Linked DNA regions of Homo sapiens: region 2 is reported to be linked to region 1. The links are microRNA targets in miRTarBase. Many come from high-throughput screens and were not tested one by one. Region 1 holds a microRNA gene; the other region holds the end of a gene's coding sequence.
Evidence for each region. The annotated mature microRNA hsa-miR-218-2-3p reads CAUGGUUCUGUCAAGCACCGCG and lies in region 1 at 1,648-1,669, shown strand. An mRNA with a match to its seed (bases 2 to 7 or 8) in the 3' UTR can be bound and repressed. Matches are read on the target gene's strand: a 7mer-m8 pairs with bases 2 to 8, a 7mer-A1 pairs with bases 2 to 7 and ends in A, and an 8mer does both.

Region 1 (3,306 bases):
CTGAAACCCAGGACTTCTGACATACTGTGAAGACTCTTGATAATTTACCTACAAATCCCTCCATTTCTTTTTGTAGGAAGAAACCAAAGAGAAAGAAAATTAGATTTTAAGGCTTGGTGAGGGTGGCGGTTTGCACGAACAGGATGGATTTCCCCTGCTCTTGTACCAGGGTCCTAATCAAACTCACATTTGAAGTCCCAGAACCACAGTGTTCACAGAGCCCTGCATAGGTGTCAAAGCAGAGTGGAGTCCAGATTCTAGTGGCTGACTCTAGTGCGTGTGATGAGAGACCTTAGGAAGGAGGAGAGGCCAGACAGACCCAGAGCTGTGGGCTGGCTCTTCCTAACTGGTCCAACATGGCAGACAACCTATGCACCGTTGAGATGCTGAGACCATCTAGAGGATATGCCCAGTCCCAAAAACACATAGTGGAAGAATGTTGATACTGGTTCTCATGTCAGAGGTCAGGCAGGGAGGGTCTCAGTCACTTAGCCTTAGCTCCAGTTTCTTCAAGATGCACATCTCCAGCCTAATGCCAAGTGGGAGGAAGTCCCAAGTCAGCAGGTTCATGGAAACTGACCCTGATCTATCACAGAGAGGAATATAAAAACTGGGTACCCTCACCTGGGCCTTTGGCATCCTGACAGTGGTTATTGGTTCATCCTGTTCGCTCCCATAATTTCCAGCTAAGGAAGAGAACAAGAAATCAAGAAGGACCCCAGAATTCAGTGTCTTCCCCTCAGACTCATCACTTGGCTTCCCTTTCCTTCCTTCTCTTAGTCTCAAAGAGGCCCTTCATCAGGAGGCGCACTGGCCACCATCTCTGTGAAAGTCAGTGTTCTCAAACAACAACTATGATTGCAGGTTCCTCAGTCCAAACCCTACGGCCCCATTTGTTTTCCTGTCTTTCTCTCTGGCTAGAGAGATATATTTTCTTTTGACACCCCACTGCTCCTCTATTAAACCTCAAATGATCTGGGATGAGTGTCTATCAGCCAGAGCATTCCTGCTGACCTCAAAGGATATAAAGGAGACTCCTGAATTGTGGAATGTCAAAGGGGGCTTTTTCCTAAAGAACAGCATTGAAGGTTTGCTAGACCACTGGGAACTGTGGATTGTCTCTTGACTTAAGGGGCTAGAGGAATGACTGTGATGGAACCACTCAGCTGTTGGGGGGATTGGGCCTATGTTGCAAAGCATGCAGAAGATGCTTTTCTAAGTTTAATGTCTTGTCAGACCAACTGGTGTGACTGAATGGAGTTTAGAGGCTCAATTCAGGCATGTGATAGGATCACAGATGTCTGAGTGTTCTTTCTTTCCTTGGGAAGGAACCATGCTGTCCTGAAGCTCCCGAGTATGGGCATCCAGTGATTTCCCTCCCGTTCTTCTCCCTTCCTACTGTGTCTCCCTGGGGTGGGGCACAAGGGCAGCAGGGCTGCAATCTTCGGAAGTGTTCCAGTGGAACCCCACTCCTGATACTAATCACGCTCAGTGGGGGCCTGCTCCGGCTTCCGCTTCTCCACGCTGCTTCCTCTGAGCGCTCCTGTCCTCTCTCTGACGCTGCTTCCTGACCTTGACTCTGACCAGTCGCTGCGGGGCTTTCCTTTGTGCTTGATCTAACCATGTGGTGGAACGATGGAAACGGAACATGGTTCTGTCAAGCACCGCGGAAAGCACCGTGCTCTCCTGCAGCATGGCCCGCCACCGCCGCCACCACCGCTGGACACCTCTCCTCTGCTCTGGAGCACCGCAGCCCACCACCTGCCAGACCCACCTCTCCCAGTCTCAACTCACCAAAGGCAGGAGGGTAGGAGTCTCAAAGGATGCAGATACAGAGGGAAATGGGTCTGGAGAAGCACCCTGGGGAAAGAGATCTGTATCCACATCTCTTTCCCAAAATGGAGTCACCCTCCCCCAAATCTAGTCTGGATGTCAGACAAGGAGTAATAACTAGGTTCAAGCTCAGAAACTACTGTGTCTCTTCTTCCACTGGAAGGGAACAAGTATACCCAAGGCATACGCCCCATGGTTTCATGGGAGAGTCCCAACCCAAGGTCATTTTTCCAAGTGGCAGCTAACCCAAAGGGGAATTCCTACTGCTTGTGACCCCCGACCCCTCCCACCACCACCTTTATTGGTATTCACTTTATTTGAAATGAACGTCAGCATGAGAATGGGTGAAACTCATGTGAGTCTGAGACTTTGGGTTTAACCCAAGGTTCCTTCTGAACCTCATTCCCATACTTTATGAAAACACAGTCCCTGAACCCCATGAAACCTAAAGTCCAGTCTGTTTCCTTGACCTGCAAAGCACAGTTAACGTGGAGGTGCTGGGCTCCTCACCTGGTGCTAATTCTGTTTCAGGGGAGGGGAGTGTGTGTGGACGTGGAAACCTGCTATCTCTGATAATAAAGAGAGGGATCTTGGTACCTCTTATTTTGCTTGTTCCTTGATAAATCCTAGACCCAGTGTAACCAGAAGACTGTGTTGTTCATTCCTGTCCTGGAGTCTTTGTCCTATTCTGCAAGAGAGAGCTAAGGTGGGAACTTTAGCCTAGCTCAGAACTAGAAGCTGAGCCCTGGGCCCCCATCATGAGGTGTGACTCTTATTACCTCGTCTATCTGAGGTTACCCCTCAGAACCAGGAGCCCAACCATTGCTTAGTAGTTTTTTAACATACATTGAGTGCTTGCTATAGGCCAGGCAGTGAACTGTTTTCACATCATTACCTTGTTTAATGTTCACAAAATCTAAAGTCCCACTTTACAGATGAGGATATTGAGGCTCAGAGAGGTTAGCTAACTTACCCAGGGTCATCTGATTCCAGAATGGCTGCACTGTACTGCTGTAATACCCACCTTCCCAGCTGTGGACAACCCCATTGCCTTGAATTAGAACATTTAAAAACTGTGATTTGATAGGGACTTGAAATTTGCTTAAACTCTCCCTTTCAGACTTTCATCTGTTAGTAGAAAGAACTTGAGTAAGAGAGAAAGCATTATTCAAATGGCTGTTCCTCTCCAGCATGGACATACAAAGATCCCATTTAACACAGAGCAAATCCTCGAGCCTGGAGAAGTTCCCTTTCCCACCTTACAGAGAGGGGCATTCTGAGGCCCTCGGCACTGCCCCTAACATGGCAGGGACCAGGCCTCTGGGAGTGGGTCCATAATGGTGCCCTTCCATCAGTGCTTTACTGGCCCCGCAGCCACAGGCTGTGATGAGGCAGTGCCAGCCTCAGACCATGGGTATTTCCCTCTGTTTTCAGGCAGATGGCTGCACTCATAATAGACTCCAAAGGGGATAG
Region 2 (3,306 bases), not on the chromosome of region 1:
GTTTTCAAACTTTGTTTGAAAGTACTCTTGTTGTACTCAAGAATTACCCAGAGAGGTTGTTAAAATGCAGTCCTGGGCCCCACCTTGCAGAGATTTGGCAAGTTGGGGTAAAACCTAGAAATCTACACTCTTAATCTTTATTATTAGAGTTGCTTAAAATATATTTGTATTTCATGGTTGTGTCAGCATCAAAATACATATCCAAAGATATGTTTGTACATTACTATAAAAAAAATTTTAAACTGGCTACAGCACTTTCTGAACTGCAAAGTAACTAAAAATGGTAAGATCACCCTGTTTTAAAGTTTCCTTTATTTCTTTAGATCTTTATGAAACATTCCATCGTTTGCAGATCATAGTGCTTTATTAACAAATTCATGTGTTCTTTTCCCATCCCTTTAATACAAAAAAATTATTCATCAGTTATTTTCATCTGACATTTCACTAAGTACAGAATGCATAATGTCAACATTATTAGATCAGCCATTCAAGTGGGTCACATAAGTTTATCCTCATTGTGCCAAATACCCACTCAAAGGATAAGCTGAATAACAGATGCCTCCAGGTGTATACAACAACCTTAGTTTCTTGACTTGAACTAGTCCTGTTTAACAGGTCAAACTGCTAGTCTTTCTAAGTAAACTAAAAAAGACTCAAGTACACAGCTGTACATACATATCATCAGATGGTAAGTTCATTTCAACAAGAACCTCTATAACTAACTGTACATTTGTACAGTTTTCTGCTATCATTGCAAAAGCCCCTCTGAACAAACTTATAGTTTAGAATTTAAAACAATCCTGATGAGACAAAACGTACCAGGTGGCTTTTCTGTAGCAGAAATTAATTACAACCATTTTTCCTCAAGCAATTTTAAAGACAAACAAAGTTGAAAATAAATATGCAAGCATACAGTAAACAAAATGTCTATACTGAGAAATTCAGACACAAAGCACAGTGGAGTCTATAACTGTAGAAGTTAGAAATACAAACTAGCAATGAAGCAACAATCTCTTCCAAATAGCAGGAAACAAGTTCTCCAATACCATTATTTAGATAATTATTTAGTGATTTTGGAGTTTTTTTTTTAATCCCGTTTGCTGATTATGACATTTGACCAGAATCTCAAGAAATACCTTAAATCATACTGCATGAAATAAATGACCATTTAATTCCTGATTAGTTGAACTCCTTAATGACTTTTCAGTTTTGTATATAATAGAAAGGTTCAAGAACCTTTGTAGATTTGCTTACAATTGCTGCTGGTATTTATGAAAGCTTTTAAAAGTTATGTTATATTCTTCTGCATCTGTTGATTCCACATTAATGTAATTCTCAAGTATTTTATAAACAAGCCTTGGGTGTTAGAATGGTCTGTTTCAAATTTTCAGGCATGCTATTTCGACTTACTTACTGCAAGGTATCACCCCCCTTTCCTCCCCTCCACTATAAAAAAAAAAAAAAAAAAAGGTGGCAGAATGGAGACAAATTTCCAGATTTAAGTAAAAAGAAATTTAAGATTTTCCCAGGCTTGGATTACAATCCTTGGTGGACAGGAATGCCAAGTATATATGCCAATTGTTAAACGTTTTATGAAATTAAACATGAAACGAAAAGAAAATGAATTCCAGCTAAATCATATTAAGAAGGAACGAGACATGAGACATATTAATAAGATATGACACATTTATCATCCATAATCAAACAATTCAAATCCCTGACTGAAATTGGCTTGAAAAATGATACAAACTCTATGGCTGCTTTAAAGGACTGTAAGATAACATGTTTTTAAAGCCTATATAAACCACTGATGCACTTTTATATACTTTATATTCAAAACTAATCTATGGAGCTCATTCCATTCCATTTAAAATAGTAAGTCCTCACATATTTGTGGTTACTTTTACAGTGTTTTTAAAAAAGGAGTACTGCTAATAATTTAAGACATCCTAAAGACAGAATAGGTGTGAAGGCTTCTTTTTATATTTGGGGTGTTTTAGGTAATTTTTAAGAACTTAAAATTATTATTTGTTCCTCCTTAATATGAAACTCTTCCAAAATACCTTCTGACCAGTAAGTAAATGTTCCTTAGGCACTGTGAGGTGTATTAATGATGAAGCATGAACCCAGGCTGAGAAGTGTACAATTTGATTTTAACTACTGCCAAAACAGTTAACAAGCTCTGTCTTATCCACTGACAGCAGGAAATGTCTTTACCCCACTACTCCTGAGATTCTAAAAAGGGAAAACTAATTTCACAAACAACCTTTAAAAGAATCCATAGATGATTCTAAGAACAGCACATATTCAGGGTATTAGAAAAGATGTTTTCTTTTGTAAGGCATCAATGATTAAAATAATAGAACGCATATTTACTAACAAAAGATGGTTAACATTATCATAAAACCATTTATCTTTTTAAACTTCTCTAATTCCTGCTAATTTTGCCAGCTTAAATAAGAAATGAATGCCTCTTGGCCTAATCAACTATGGTTATAAAAAACTAAGACATCTGAAACTATTAGGCACATCAAAGGTACGGCTTATGTAATTCAAGGTTCCCTTCTTAAGGGGCAGGTGAGTTACCTGGCACATTATACATATGGAACTGTGAAGATCATCTACTAAATTCAACTTTCACATTTTTAGTCAAACTGAAAGACTTATAGTAAATATTCAAACATACCATATCTTCAGTTACAACCGAGTAAGTGTAACATTTTACCAGATAAAAACCTGGAACTTAAGTATGAGAAACCTTCATATACTGTGCTCGTATTGGTCTCTTCTTTTTAGATGAAAGCCAGTCATCAATACTTTCAACACAGCAGTTTAGAAGATAAACGTCCAAAACAGTTGACTTGGTTGTAGTCCATAATTTAGCAATTCAATGCCACTGGCATTACAGTGCTGTGGAGCGCAAGTGTATCTCTATATTTCAGTCAGATTTGTCTTTCTTCTTTCCTGTTAAGGGCACTTTGTTTACAACAGCAGACCCAACAGCTGTAACACCTCCAGCCACAGCAGAGACACCCCCTTTCACCAGCCCTATTCCCATGGAAGGCACAGTTGTAACAGCTGTTTTGGTCACTTCCAGACTCTTTCCACCAATCCAAGCCACACCACCAATGGTGGCACCAACAGCTCCCTTTGTAACACTGAAGATACCCCCAGTCACACGGGACAACATGCCTGGCTGCTGCTGTGGGTGATCTTTCATTGAACCTAATGAGAGAAAATATCATGAGACAATCAAATATAAGTCACAAGTCTTTAAAAGAGCAGTACACATCATTAAGTAACCTA

Region 2: the mRNA of TMEM263 is a reported target of hsa-miR-218-2-3p. Seed matches in the 3' UTR shown: 7mer-A1 at 2,489-2,495.

What each region holds. Positions count from the first base shown.
Region 1 is chr5:168,766,531-168,769,836 of GRCh38, reverse strand. It overlaps MIR218-2 (microRNA 218-2), which reads left to right and starts at 1,582; the gene lies at 1,582-1,691. All of the region lies in intron 14 of SLIT3 (slit guidance ligand 3), which reads left to right.
Region 2 is chr12:106,971,024-106,974,329 of GRCh38, reverse strand. TMEM263 (transmembrane protein 263) reads right to left here. Exons shown (of 4, transcript NM_152261.4): 4 at 295-3,225. The coding sequence ends at 2,939. Among named protein-coding and RNA genes, the nearest start is that of MTERF2, 14 kb to the left of the region's middle.